2 separate regions of the Homo sapiens genome follow, and region 2 is linked to region 1. Evidence: fine-mapped expression QTL. Tissue or cell type: whole blood. Region 1 holds a variant in brackets; the other region holds the start of a gene. All regions are shown on one strand. Distances are between the middles of the regions.

The links. PIP is the estimated chance that this variant, and not a neighbour inherited with it, causes the effect.
Region 2: CNTLN starts here. The variant in region 1 is fine-mapped to the expression of CNTLN in whole blood (TOPMed, PIP above 0.99).

Annotation. Positions count from the first base shown.
Region 1 is chr9:17,442,581-17,450,690 of GRCh38, reverse strand. All of the region lies in intron 18 of CNTLN (centlein), which reads right to left. It also overlaps the pseudogene SAMM50P1. Among named protein-coding and RNA genes, the nearest start is that of SH3GL2, 130 kb to the left of the region's middle. The variant G/A (reference allele first, on the strand shown) is at 3,243.
Region 2 is chr9:17,130,296-17,138,405 of GRCh38, reverse strand. It overlaps CNTLN (centlein), which reads right to left and starts at 3,366. Exons shown (of 26, transcript NM_017738.4): 1 at 2,981-3,366. The coding sequence starts at 3,340. RefSeq lists an enhancer at 2,522-3,085.

The sequences.
Region 1 (8,110 bases):
AAGCAAATGAAGGTAATATAGAGGACTTTTCACCAATGCTTTTGCTAGTAGTTAGACTTCAGTAGCCTTTAGAGACCATTAAGTACCTTTTGGCTAATTGGCCAATGGTAGATTAATCCTCTTTTTATTCCAGCAACACTATTTTAACACCCTTACACTCTGTCAGTGCAGAGTCTGAATGACAAAATAATATTGTGCATGAATAATAAGCAGAAAAGTTAAATTAACATTTCATGTTTCACATGCCATACATAGGTGTCAGAGGAACTTTCTTTTTTAAGTCACTGACATTCAACTTTTTTAAACAATCTCATGTTGACATCTTATTGAGGTGAATCTTCCTAATTACTGCTAATTGCCTATCAAGAAAAAAAAACTCTTTTCATGAAGTGTAGTTGTCTGCTACAGATGAACCCAGCTCCAGTGTGCACATTAAAGACACAGCATGACACTTAAGGTGCTACTTTGTTATAAGGTCATACTAAATATGGTTTACAATTAACAAAGCAGTTTTTTTATGGGTCTGAAAATGCCAATCTGTCTTGATGTGTTCAAATTAGGTTCTATCAGAGAAATATGGATATCTGCATATGGATAAGAGATACGCTACTCTCAATAACATTTACAAGGAGTTAAATTAATTCAATGCCCTTATACTTTGTAACACAAGTTCTAGCTAATGTCCAATTAAATATTTTGTAACTGTGTTTAAATATTTCTCAAAATGAAAATCAACACTATTATTTCAAGTGTCAAATTATTCAAAACAGTTTACTAATACTTTTAATTCTGAAAGACCAAAAATACTCAAAACATTTAACAAGTACTTTTAATTTATATGAATAGTTTTAACATTATATGCCTTTATAGCAAATTTTAACCTATGTGATATTAGCAAGGTAGTGTCTTTCAAAATAATCTGAATAACTAAATGAACGCATTTTAATTGGATTTGTTGAACCACATCACTTAAACTTCTGTTCCCACAAGTATGGGGAAAATAATGGATAGTAAAAACACGTTATATGTGAAATTTAGAAAGTCAACTAATACAATTGACTTTCAAGTATTCACGGGAAAAATAAACATTTGTCTATTCACAGAAAAAAGAGTTTGACTGTTGGTTTGTTGTTATTTCAAATCTTCTGTTTAAGTTACGAGAAGAAAAGCTCTCTCTTTTTTTTTTTCTTTTATTATTATACTTTAAGTTTTAGGGTACATGTGCACATTGTGCAGGTTAGTTACATATGTATACATGTGCCACGCTGGTGCGCTGCACCCACTAATTCTCAGTAAACTATCGCAAGAACAAAAAACCAAACACCGCATGTTCTCACTCATAGGTGGGAATTGAACAATGAGATCACATGGACACAGAAAGGGGAACATCACACTCTGGGGACTGTTGTGGGGTGGGGGGAGGAGGGAGGGATAGCACTGGGAGATATACCTAATGGTAGAAGAAAAGCTCTCTTGAAAACTAAATACCAGGTACTAAATACTGGGACAGATAATGGGAACCAAAAGTATATCCAGAATAATTCATCATCCTCACTACCAACATAATTTCTCAATGTTTATATGGTAATATTATGAGTTCAGTCATAGCCCTCCTAAACACGAGACTTACATATGACATGCTTACTAATGACTATGAGGTTGCAATGCATACCCATTCTGACTCCTTTCCTCAATAGGAAAGAAAGAGGATGGTAGCGCTATTTGATGTCCTAAAGGAGAAACTGTGCAATGTCTTTCGGAACTCCTCTTTTTCACTCTCCTTCTCCTGCTTAAATTCAGTTAATTCAACATAGAAATAGCTATTCCTCACATGTCCTATTTACTATTCACCACTTTAATTATATTCTTCCTTCACCCTCTTTGTCAATATTTTTTTGTTACTGGAGTTGAGTGGCAGTAAGAAGAAAAGAATCCATCCCAATTTAAAGATGTTTTAAGTGAATGTCCACTCAAAGAACCAAGAAAAAAAATAAACATGCCAGATCAACAAAAATAATACTTGATGTTTCAGGGTGATGTTAACAGCATTATCTGTATCTAAGTAAAGAACGGCAGCCTCCTGCCCTCATAACCAAGGCTTGGTCAGGCCTGGGGAGCTCTATGAGGTGGCAGCAGGAGAAGGAAGCCTGAGGACATTGTACACGCAGAGTTTGGAGCCTCTTCCACCAAGAGGATCTGGCTTTGGAGCATCAGAAAATGAAACTGAATTTGCTGAAGGTGAAAGTGAAGCTAAACAGGAAATTCTTAAAAACAAAGATCTGGCTGTTCAACATGCCCATTTTTATGGGCTTGGATGGACTAAATAAAGATAATATCACCGTTTGTAAAACTGGAGATGTTTTTAAGGCTAAAAATCTCATTGAGGTAATGTGGAATTCTCATGAAGCCCGTGAAAAATTTCTTCATCCAGGAATTTTTTAGACAAGTGAATTTTTTGAGTGATACATGTCAAGGTGACAATGCATTTCCAAATGGGTTAGATGTTACCTTTGAAGTAACTGAATTAAGGAAATTAATGGGCAGTTAAAACACCATGGTTGGAAACAATGAAGGGAGTACGGTACTTGGCCTCAAACTCCCTGATCTTCTAGGTTATGCAGAAAAGGCGACTTTTCATTTTTCCCATGGAACAAAAGACGCTTCCCATGGCCTTTCTTCAAACCATGGCCCGGAAACTTCAAAAGGAATTTATCTGTAAACTTACATGAAGTTACTGAACAGTTCCCTTGGAGCTCACTTCCGGAAATGAACAGAAGATGATCAGCCAAGTACAGTCTTCCCATATGAAAGACCAGCCACACCAACAATTGGAAAGGCATGTGGCGAGACCTGGGCTGTCACTTAAGGACAGCATCATTTGCTGTTTGAAAGTAAGGCAGACATTCACTTAAATCATGTCTTTCACATGCCATGGTCATCGATTTTCAGAATTCTTCCATCTTACCAAGAAAATGTGTTTTGCTGAAAGTTAACCAGGAACTGACAGGCTACACTACAAGGGATATAAGCTTCATCAAAGATTTTGAACTTCAGTTGAATAAACCACTCATATTTGATTCAGTTTTTTCAGCAATTCTCTGAGGTGGGATGTTGGCACCCATGGTGATAAACTGTGAGTCCTGCTGATAGTTTCACCTTGGGGGACCAACAAGTGTCCAAGGATTCAGCATGCACAGCACCGGAGCAGAGTGCAGGCGACCACCTAGGTGGAGAAGCACGCT[G/A]GGCCAGCGGACCGCAACTGTGTACGCCAACACGTTTAAAGCCAAGCCAGGGCAGTTTGGGAGAACTTTTCCAAACACTTTTTTCTCAACACAGGAAACCTCTGCAACCTCAACTATGGGGAGGGCCCCAAAGTGTATTCGTGAGCTGGCTGAATGTATCTGCCAGTTTTATGGCACCAGGATTGTCTTTAGGCTTGGCAACATGGCTCTGTTGGAACTTAATTACTACTTTCCTATGGGAGTGCAGACAGGCAACAGGATATGTGATAGCATCTAGTTTTGAGCTGGGATAAGGTTCCTGTAGCTGACACCGCAGCGGGAGAAGCTCTGGGACCCTGATGGCAGTGAGTTGCCCACCAGGCAATTTCTCTCAGAGTAAATGCGGATGAGAGATTCTTTGACTGCAGTCTATGTGAAATACCGCATTCATAAATTTTAAAGACATACACATGAAAAGAGGCCATAACTTTTAAAGTACAATTATAATGACTGAGTTATCAGAAACAGACTATGAAATATCTGCAGAAGTCTCATGAAGACTGCTGATTCATCTCTGATTAAACTTGGTTTTCCTAGAAATCAGATTTCAATACTTTTATTTGACTGTTTTCTTGTCCTTGTGGTGTGCTATTACAATAGTATTACTTCTTATTTTATGGTATTTTATTGCTCTAAAAGGCCTTTGTGGACTAGCCAGAGGAAATCAATATCCATATATAGTATTAAATTGCTCATAATACTTAATTCCTACATAAGCTTCAAAAGAGAGGCATCAGTATTCCTTAGAATAATTTTTGACTTCTAAAAATTTATAATAGACCATGATATATTTCTGAAATTTAAATTTTATAAGATAAAGAATTTCTCAGTAAGCCTCTGAAAAGTATGAATATAAACATTAAATTACATTTGAATCAGTTCTTAGGAAGACTACATTATCACATTAATCTAAATTAAATATTACCAACTTTGGGGGTTATAGAGTCAAAGGCTAAAGATCATCATTTGCAGCTCCAAATTCATATATTCAAGCTAGCGAAAGACATATGTTTCTTAAATATATCCTAAATATGAATTACATCTTAATACTTAAAAACGGAAATATTTTCATGATAGGGTCTGTAGGGGTGGGTTGCCCCTCCACACCTGTGGGTGTTTCTCGTAAGGTGGAACGAGAGACTTAGGAAAGAAAAAGACACAGAGACAAAGTACAGAGAAAGAAGTAAGGGGACCCGGGGAACCAGCGTTCAGCATATGGAGGATCCCGCCAGCCTCTGAGTTCCCTTAGTATTTATTCATCATTCGTGGGTGTTTCTCGAAGAGGGGGATGTGTCAGGGTCACAAGACAATTGTGGGGAGAGGGTCAGCAGACAAACACGTGAACAAAGGTCTTTGCATCATAGACAATGTAAAGGATTAAGTGCTGTGCTTTTAGATATGCATACACATAAACAGCTCAATGCTTTACAAAGCAGTATTGCTGCCCGCAGGTCCCACCTCCAGCCCTAAGGCGGTTTTTCCCTATCTCAGTAGATGGAGCATACAATCGGGTTTTATACCGGGACATTCCATTGCCCAGGGACAGGCAGGAGACAGATGCCTTCCTCTTGTCTCAACTGCAAGAGGCGTTCCTTCCTCTTTTACTAATCCTCCTCAGCACAGACCCTTTACGGGTGTCGGGCTGGGGGATGGTCAGGTCTTTCCCTTCCCACGAGGCCATATTTCAGACTATCACATGGGGAGAAACCTTGGACAATACCTGGCTTTCCTAGGCAGAGGTCCCTGAGGCCTTCCGCAGTTTTTGTGTCCCTGGGTACTTGAGATTAGGGAGTGGTGATGACTCTCAAGGAGCATGCTGCCTTCAAGCATCTGTTTAACAAAGCACATCTTGCACCGCACTTAATCCATTTAACTCTGAGTTGACACAGCACATGTTTCAGAGAGCACGGGGTTGGGGGTAAGGTTATAGATTAACAGAATCTCAAGGCAGAAGAATTTTTCTTAGTACAGAACAAAATGGAGTCTCCTATGTCTACTTCTTTCTACACAGACACTGTAACAATCTGATCTCTCTTGCTTTTCCCCACAGGGTCAATAGTTAACTGTATGTCTCTCGTTGGTTGTACCGTATCTAAGTCTTGCAAATAAAGTGCTTGGATGAAAGCCAGTCAGGGAATTTCAAAACCCTACAACTCATTACAAATTTAACAGCAGCAGTACTAAGTATTCATATCATGTTGATCATTTATAAATATACCCTATAAAAATTCTCAAGAGAAGCAATAATGTTTTTTTCTATTCCCTGTATAAATTTCATAAGGTTCAAGATAGTGAAAAATGGACATTTTTAGAAAGGACTTTTAAAAATCTTTGGATTTGATAAAATAAAAAGTTACTGATACCATTTAAAATGGGATTTTAAAAAACTAAGGACCAACATATGTAAAAATTACCAAAAAAAGTCTTTCATAGCATAGAGTAGAAATTTCCTTTATATAGAAAAAAGAGATTTGCAAAGTTTTGACCTATACTATATTATTCAAGGTATTTCTCATAGATTTCACTGAAAAGCTATTTTTTCCAACACACAAAATTCCACATAGGAACTTCTACCATCAGCCTTCCCTTCATTTTCTATTCAGAATTGTTTTCTGTTTATCATATTCTTTCAAGTAAAAAGGCTTGACCTAACAAAGTAGGTCACTCAATAAATAAAGTCAAATAAATACCTGACTCTCAGGCAGTTATGCTACATCAAGGACAATGATTCATGTAGATCTTTAGTAAGAGGGTAAGTCTAGGTGTTCTTCCATTTTTATTAATCAAGCCAGTTGATCTGCTTTTCTTCTAAATCAGTAGTTCTCAAATAGTACATACTACCCAGATGTGTGTGTATTTTGGAAATTTGTTGGGGCACTTTTGAGTGCCACAATGATTGGCAACTGAAGTGGGTGACAGCAAAGAATACATAAGTACTGCAATGTATAAATCAGTCCTGCCCAATAGAAACTACTCTGTACCCTCATGACTCTGAAATTCCTGTCAATTACTCATGTAGGTGACAATTAACATATAATGAAATAACCTAAATCCTAACTCAAAATGACATACAGACAAAGTATTTGTATTCCTGTGGCTCCCCAAATTTAAGCAGAGAAGTTCTTTCCTTCTCTGAGGTAGAGCTATAAGAATGTAGGCTTACCACATGGCCAATACGCATGGCCAGAGCTGCATGGAGAAAGCTGGTCTGGTCTGGAATGAAGAGATGTGAGAAAGAAGCGTTAAAAACATTAGAGTGTCTGTCTGCAATTTTCTGTACCTTTACCAAGTCTATGATCTACAGTTCATCCTTTGATTTTGTGTTTTTTTTCTTATGTTAGTTTGAAGTCTGTTTCTATCACTTGCTATCAAGACAGTCTTGTTAATACAGTCTTCTTAGTAAAGTCCAACAGTCTCTTCTCAGTTTTCTATTATCAGTTCCTCTATGGGATCTGACACTGTTGACCAAAGCTTCTCTTTTTCTTGTTAAAAACTTTCTCTCCCTTGTTTCTTTATTAAAGTACTCAATTTTTCCTCCACATTCTCTGTACAGTTCTTTTGGATCTCCTTCTCTGACTCCTCTTTGCCCATATAGCAGATAACTCCCCCAAACTTAAGATCTTGCTGCAAAGATTTGTTCCACCTCCAGCATTCTTTCTCTGGGCTAATGACATCAGTAGATTTCCTTCTTCATTTTTAATGAAATATTTCAATATACCATAGGTATATAAAGAAAAATACAATGAATGCCCATGTGTTAACCAGTCAACTAAGACAATATATTACCAATACAGTTGAAGCTATGAACGTCTCTCCTGATCCACCAGAAATAATCACTATCCTGAATAACTTTGTTGTTTATTTTTCCCTTACCTTTCTTTATACTTTTAGAATATATACACATATAGACTCCTCAACCATATAGCAATTTAAAGACACTATTTCACATTTTAACAATCCCTGAAATTGTAATACAACTTCCCTTCCTAGATACCACACAATACCTGCTATTATTTAAACAATATTTTTCTTTTAAATTGCATATTCTGTTGATTGCTGGTGAATATGAGTCCTATTATCTTTGTATATTACTGATCCAGCAATCTTGCTGAAATCTCTTACTAATTATAGTAATTTGTCTTCAGATTCTGTGGAGACAAGCATAATGCATGGGAACTAATGATGGTTTTGTTTCTTCATTTCTAATATATTTAACTTTCACTTCTGTCTCTTATATTAATGTGCTGGTTAGGTACTCAAGTACAACATCAAAGACAAACAATGATAGCAGGCATAGAAGTATTCTTCCTGATTTCAAAAAGAATGCATCTAACTTCTTTAAGTATGATGGCTAGTTCAGGTTTTTGGTAGACACCTTTTAACAGAACTGTTTCAGGTTTTTGGTAGACACCTTTTAACAGAATAAGAAAGTTCCCTGCTAGTCCTAGTTTGCTAAGATAATTTTTATCATGAACAGATATTTAATTTTATCAGAAAATTTTTACCTTTTTTATTGTGGTAAAAAAACATGAGATCTACTTTCTTAACAAATTTTCAAGTGTACAGTACATAAACTTCCCTCTTACAACTGCTTATGCTTGCAGCCCATAAATTCAGGTATGTTATGTTTTCATTTTCATTTGTCTCAAGGTATTTTCTAATTTTCTTTGTGACATCTTTAACCCATTGGTTGTTTAAGAGTGTTTGGTTTAGCTGGGCATGGTGGCTTACACCTGTAATCCCAGCACTTTAAGAGGCCAAGGCGAGTGAATCACTTGAGGTCAGGAGTTTGAGACCAGCCTGGTCAACATGGCGAAACCTTGTCTCTC
Region 2 (8,110 bases), 310 kb after region 1:
ATGATGAAACTAATTTCATATTTCATTTAAATACCCTAATTTTTTTCCTAAAACTGGCTTATAGGTTTAGTCAATATTTTTGCCTGATACCAAAAAATAAGCTTTATAAATGCTATATAAACATATTACTCTTTCTATGTAAACATAACACTTTTTTCTCATCTCACTCTATAAATGGTGATAAATGTACAAATACACATGCCCCAGCATCCTTTATCACAAACAGAACACATTCTTGAAATATATAATCAAAATTAAAAGTGTAGTGGAGTTAGGTTCTAAATTAGTGAAATAGGGCATTAAATGCCATGGATGCAAAATTACCCTTTGGAACACCCTTGAAAAATTCCTTAGGAAAAAGCTACATTTGGAAGCTTACCTACTACCCTCAGTAAGTCCAATACAGATAGCTTTTCTTCCCTCATTGAAATTAATCACTTTTTCTTCATATAAGCATTATTTATAGTTCAGTTGCTAATCAGGGGGCCATATTTTTTTAAAGTTTAATTAGATAATACAATCACTTAGAGTGGGATGAGATGCTGATATTAAGAGAAACATTTGATTGCTTTCTATTACATGCTTATTCTGAGGCATTCCAATGATGTAGAATGGTATGGGGAATTACTCAAACTTCACCAAGCACACATCACTGAATTCCCATAAGTTGAATGTGAAAGCAAAACAAATTAAATGAAGCTACTACTTATGACCATGGACTAATTAGCAGTGTTCTTTTTCCTAAACTGTATGTTTCAAGCCTTGTTGGGTTCTGAAATTAATTTAGATCTGGACAGCATTTTTTAAAGGAATAGAACTGAAAAAATATCAGCCCACACAGTATTAGGGCATGTATTCTTTCTGAAAATATATGTTTGTATATGTGTGTACTTACTAGATTGAGATACAAAATTTTACTTCGAGTTGTAATTTTCAGCAGTTTTAATGCTATGTATTCTTGGGTACTGTGATCTCTAGCTGAATAAATAAGCGGGAGAGTATACTTTAAAAGATATAAAAGTGAATATTTAATCACCTAAATGCTTTTTACAAAACAATTGGGAGTTCAATTACTATTTTTCCCCAAGATTCCCGAAGAGCAGGAGTCTGATTTGACTAAGATTTTTATGGTGCGGGATACTGCCTACAATTATATAAGAGTATTAATATTACAAAATCTAAGAGATCATCATTCTAGACTATTATGACCATCTCTGTATTCTTACATTTGCCAAGAGTATGTCAATCATTTTCCTAGTCTATATATGTCCGAGGTCACAAAAGCCAACACCATGTTTGGAGCCACATTTTTAAAGAATGTAAGTATTTGTGGGAAGAGGTTCATCAGGCTGTTTCCAATAGACTGACTTCCTTAACCAAGTCGGTCATAAAAAAGTATCTTAGCTCTTTAGCCAGCTAAAGGCCTAACTATGTGGGGAGGCAGAAGTGGGAGGAAAGAGTGCGGAAAATATGCCAAAGAGTGTCTTAGATTAGGACTCAGAGTATCAAAGGCCTTTATCATGGGTTCACATCTTAAAACTCCCCAAAGGGTGAGGTCTGCAGATGACAAATGCTTCAATTCATTGTTGTCATTTATTTATCCCTTTGCTCCTTATCCAACGAAGAACAGAAAAATGGTAAAACGAAAAGAGGGCACCATATTAAATGTCCCAACCTTGTTTAACCAAAGGCACATTCAATTTGAAGATGGTCCCATTTTTACACCCTTCACTCAGTCAGCAAGGACCTATAAAATGGGCAAAAGAATCCAACAGAACAAACTATGAGAGAATGAATTTCTGTAATCCCAGCACTTTGGAAGGCCAAGGCTGGCGGACCACGAGGTCAGGAGATCGAGACTGTCCTGGCTAACACGGTGAAACCCCATCTCTACTAAAAATACAAAAAATTAGCCAGGCGTGGTGGCGGACACCTGTAGTCCCAGCTATTCGGGAGGCTGAGGCTGGAGAATGGCGTGAACCCGGGAGGCGGAGCTTGCAGTGAGCTGAGACTGCACCACTGCACTCCAGCCTGGGCGACAGAGAATGAATTTCATGAACTGTTTTATTAAACTGATGATACTGTTCACAAAGTTACTTTGATGTTCAGCAGCTCCTAATTGGTTTCTAAGTTGAAGACAGAGTGACTTAAAGATCTACTGTTCAGTGAGTTTCCCACATCCAATCTCCCAACCCTATCTAAAGGTTCTGGTAAAATCAAAAGAGATGATGGTAAGGATGCAAAACTAAAGGAAAATTCAATCTCTTTGAACATGAGTATAGTCAAGTCCATCCTTACAAAAACTCTACAAACAGGAAAGTAATTTTAATGCAATTGATTTAGCAAATGTTTTTCACTGGCAAGATCACATGAAAATGTGATTTCTCACTCAAGGACCGCGGAATTACCATAGCTGGTTAATAAACAAGTACCAAGCATCATCTATTGTTAAGTTCCCGGCTCTGAGACTTTCTAAACGTTACTCGTCTGTGTTTACAACTTAAGTTTGACTGGGTAAAAACAAAGCCAAGTGTGGGTTTGAAATTTTAAAAACAGGCTCCTTCATCGATGGATTTTACTCTAACCGAAGTGTTTACACTTTCCTGTTCATTTCAACTAGTGGACTGCATGTCACTCCTGGGCCCCCGGCAGGTATCAGCTACCGTCACCACCAAGAACTTGGGCTTGGGGGGGAAGCGGAGAGGATGCGACTGCGAGTATCCAAGTGACCAAAACCAAACCCGGGCGCGGAGGCGAAGCCTGTCTGGCCGCAGTTCGGAAAGGGGCAGGGGCCCGGGTTTGGGGAGCCGGGCGCAGCCGCGTCCCTCCAGCCCCCGGCCGCGAGCGAAGCAGGGTGTGCATCTGCCAGGGAGCGTCGCTGGGCGGGGTAGGTCCCAAGGCAGAGGGAGAAAGGCGCGCCTCCCCACGGGTCCCGGCCCCGCTGTGGTGGGGAAAGGGGGACTGCGAGACTCCTCGATACCTGACACAGGGCCAACTCCTCCTTTAGGCTGCTCAGCTCTTCCTCCAGCAGCTGCGTCCGGGTCACCATCGCCTCCTCTACCGAGATGCCCTCTAGCCGTCTGGACCCCATGGGCGCGCTGAGGAGGGGAGCATGAGCCGGAGCTGCCCCCCCAGGCCCTCGCCGGCCCCCTGACCCTTCTTCACCCACCCAGATTTTATCACTTTCGTCCGCGACCACCTCCCGCGCTGCGCCGGCAAAACCCGAGGCCTCGCTGCGCATTGCGTGTACTTCAGCTCCCCGCCCAACACGTGGGGACCTGGGGCCCAGCTGTCGCGCTGGGGGCGAAGGGTGCGGTGAGGGAGGCGAACGCGCCGCCATGGCTGCGGCTGCTAACGGGTCAAGTTCCCTGTTGGAAACTCCACCTCCCTTTCCCCAACCCGGCGAGCCCGGAACGCCGAACCGCGCATGCGCGAGGCTTTTCCCGCCTTGGCCCGCGGTGTCCCGTGTTCTCTGGTCCTGGCCGGCTTCCCGCGGGCAATGCGCCCAGCGCGAGCCTTGGGGTACGCACGCGCCGTGGCCCGAAAGGGTAAGGCCGGTCCGCCGGGCAGGCCATCCCAGCGTCCTGTGCCTGAGTCCTTGGCCAGGATCGCCTGGATTTCCCGCCCACCTAAAGCCCTGCCTGCCACTTACATCCCACCTCTTAAAGCCTTCCTTGACAAGCCCCCAGCCCCAAATGATCCTTAACTGTGAAATCCCTCTCCTTCAAGGCCCCTGCCAACTCGTGTGACACGTTTCATTGACCGCCCTGGAGTGTCAGTTACACGGCTAATCTCCCCAGCCCTGTTGTAAGCTCCTTGAGGATCAAGGAATACGTTTTACACTTAAGTGTTTTCTTCACACCCCTTGGCAAAACTGCTTTAGTACAGCTGACATCCAGCTGACTAATGTCAAGGAGATGTGGAAAGCCTTGTGCTGATCTGGGACTATCAAGCAGGTTTCCAACTTGAATGATGATCCTTTGTACACCCTTTGTCTTTTGTTTTGCAGGAGTCATGATTTCCTTTGAGTTTTTATGTCAGCTTCTTTATGCGTTGGCTGGATATCAGAGGAAGTGTAGCCCACATTGCTGAACAGTTTGGGTCCTTGGAGCAGTTTGAAATCAGTAATTTGGAGCGTGGATGAAGAAACAAGACCTACTTTATCTTTTGTTCTCTTTTTTTTCTTTTTCTTCTGGCTTTCTTTATAAACTTCAAATAGGTAGTAATCGTATCTTTCTTTGCCCTTCAAATACTTTGTTACTATTGATAAGATTAATGAGATGCATATTGAGCTGGCACCAGAACATCCCTGAAAGTTAGAACTGCCCTCTTCTTCAGAAAGGGTTCCAGAATACTTGGGGAAAGCTGAGATGGGGGTTGAGAGCAGAAGTAGAGAGATGACCACTTTACTGTTAACTTCATTTAACCAAAATATCACCATCTCTGCATGAGAATCTAGTCAGGATGCCAAAAGACACCCTCCCAATTAGAATCCTGCCAAGGCAACCAAGATAAGTGGACTTCTTTCAAACTGAAGGTGAATTCCTCACAAAAACTTATTAAAGAGTACATTAGAAAAAGTATGTTTATAAGCCTGTCTTAGAACTAGCTAACCTACTGAACATTTACCATATGCTGAGTCCAGTGCTAAGCACTTTTCATATATGAACTCACTTAATACATATGTCACCTTCAATTAGATTATTATATATCTCCATTTTTACTAGTGAGGAAACAGACTTGCAAGGTTACTGTAACTTCTCTGAAGTGCCATGTCTGGTATCAGAAAAGCTAGGCTTTGAATTCACTGAATTCCACTTAACTCTGAAAACCTGTACTTTGATCGCTACCCTGTCTCCACACCTGTGACTTGAAATACAACATTTGGTCTTGATAGTCTGTGAGATTTCACTAGACTTAAGACTGGGAAGTCTAACCACATAAGTTACGTGTTTGGCCCCAAATCAGTATTAATGCACATTTTTAATTGCTGTATGTCATTCACTCAAAAGGACATCATTTCACCTGATCATAAAAAGATCCTTTTGAAAAGCAGTGGTATAAATATGTATATGTGACCTCCCAAAAGGATAATATCCTGACTCTTTGACTAGGCATTTTTTTAAATTTTGTCTTTATTGGAGCAAAATACACAAAATACACAACATAAAATTTACCATCGTAGGCATTTTAAATGGCTACAAATAGGCCAGGCGTGGTAGCTCACGACTGCAATCCCAGCACTTTGGGAGGCCGAGGCTGGTGGATCACTTGAGACCAGGAGTTCGAGACCAGCCTGGACAACATAGTGAAACCCCGTCTCTGCTAAAAATACAAAAATTAGCTGGGAGTGGTGGTGCATTCCCGTAATCCCAGCTACTAGAGAGGCCACGGCAGGAGAATCATTGGAACACGGGAGGCAGAGGTTGCAAACAGCCAAGATCATACCACTGCACTCCAGCCTGGGTGATAAAGCAAGACTGTCTCAAAAAATAAATAAATAAATAAAATGGCTACAAATAAAAAACAATTCAGCAGCATTAACTACATTCACCATGTTAGGCAACCACCACCACTATCTGGTTCCAGAATATTTTCATCACCGGAGGCGGAAACCACATACCCACATTAGTCTCTCCACATTCTCACTGCCCCCGAGCCCCAAGCAACCATTAATTCCCTTTATGTCTCTACGGTTTTGCCTGTTTGGGATATTTCATATCAATGGAACCATATAATATGTGGCCTTTTGTGTCTGTTTTCTTTTATTAGCATAATGTTTTCAAGGTTCATCTATGTTATGGCATGTATTAGTACTTCATTCTTTTTTATAGCTGAAAATATACCATTGTATGGATATCCTCCATTTTGTTTATCCATTCATCTGTTAATGGACCTTTGGGTTCTTTCTGCCTTTTGCCTATTGTGAACAGAGCTGCTATAAACATTCACGTACAGGTTTTTGTCTGAACATTTATGTTCAATTTTTTGTTTATATACCTATGAGTAGAATGTCTAGGTCATATGTTTAATTTACTGAGGAATCACCAAACTCTTTTCCACAGTGGTTGTGTCATTTTACCTTCCCATAAGCAATGTATTAGCATTCTAATTTCTCATCATCCTCACCAACACTTATTTTTTGTTTTAGTTTTGTGTCATTTGCTTTTTTTAAATTATACTTTAAGTTCTAGGGTACATGTGCACAACGTGCAGGTTTGTTACATAGGTATAAATGTGCCATGTTGGTGTGCTGCACCCGTTAACTCATATTTACATTAGGTATATCTCCTAATGCTATCCCTCCCTCCTCCCCCCACCCGATGACAGGCCCCAGTGTGTAATGTTCCCCACCCTGTGTCCAAGTGTTCTCATTGTTCAATTCCCACCTATGAGTGAGAGCATGCGTTGTTGTTTGTTTTTTATGGCCAGTCTAGTGGGTGTAAAGTGCTGTCTCCTTGTGGTTTTCATTTGTATTTTTCCCCATGACTAATGACAATGAGCATATTTTCATGTATTTTTTGGACATTTGTTTCTCTTCTTTGGAGAAATATCTATTTATTCAAGTTCTTTGCTATTTTTTAATTGGGTTATTTGTCTTTTTGTTGTAGAGTTATAAAAGTTCTTTACTGGCAGACAATTTTTAAGAAAAGAAACGTGCACATTTCTAGAAGTATGCATAAGGAGTTCTTTCTTGTATTAGTTATTTGCTGAAATGACAGAAACGGATGAAATGTTAAATACAAACACTTATGACTCAGAAGGATAAGTTAAATATCTGCACTGCTATGTGAATAAAAATGTGCAAAACAATCAAGGTGTTTTTCCTGTTCAACTCTTTGTCCTAATATTTAAAAGTGATAGTGTCTGTTCTGAAGAAATACATAATGAAGTCTGCTGAGGATTAAGTATATTAGAATAGAGAAACACATAATTCTCTCAATATCATCACTGTATAGTCGAAATCTTGGGAAATAATGGAAGAAATGTGCCAATTAATATGGTACTTAAATTGCCTCTTTTACTTTAATTTTTAAAATTTATTTTTAACTTCTGTTTTAAAAGAGAAAAAATGTATTAGCCGTTTCTCAGCCTTTATGTTTCTTTGTTTCCAGAAAGAATGAAGAATTTTAAAACCCATGTATTTCTGCTTTACCAGTTTTGTGTAATCTTTATTTGGTCAGCATAATTTAATTAAGTTTTAAAACACTATTAGGTATTGGTAAGACCTCAAACATCTTAGATTTCTTTTCATATCATTTTAGGAATTTATCTCAGTTTTTAGTCTTTGCCATGTCCTAGAGATTTAAATCAAGAATCACTTGCTTCAGCATCAAAAGAAAAATCCATAAGCTAGAATGTGCCGATGTGATGCTTGAGTCAGTAGTAGATGCATCATGACAGCCTAGTGTGGACAAATCTCAATCCAGAAGTTAGTAGAGGTAAATAAAGAGGATTGTTTTGTGCTTTCAATTACCGCAATTTTGATTGAGCAATTCCTGGCAACTATTGATCCCCTGATCAGTCCTGAGAATGCTCTAGGTCACAATTATAGGTATACAAGGAGATATCATCAGTTCCTTTTCAAAAATTATGACCCAACAGAGCTATGAAAGAATTTCATTTTCCATTTTCATCTCCAAAGGTTGTCAAACAGTGCAAAACTGTTCAAACATCTGTTGTTTTTTCTAATTATAAGCAAAAATTATCTCCACTGAACCCCAACTCTAAGTGTGTGGGTTGTTCGGTGGGGGCACAGGGGAAGTAACCTGTAAGCCTTAGGTTTGAGTAACTTGTATCAGTTTATTTAGTTCAGAAAAGTTTGGAATATAGTGCGTTTCCCTGAGAAGTTCAGTTGGTTCCACAAAACACAGGGTTGCATAGTTTCAGCTCTTCATTTCAACACACGACCACAGTGAGGCAACACCCTACGTTTTCAGCCTTCTCATTTATATTTAAATTTCCTCCTCCCTAATAGATGGGATTATACACCCATGGTCCTAGGTATTTTAATAGAATATTGTTTATCCTCAAAGCAGTATTACAAAAGTACTCCAGTTCTTCCAGCCCTTTTTCTCCCCTGATTTTTTCCTAAACATGAAGGCCTTCT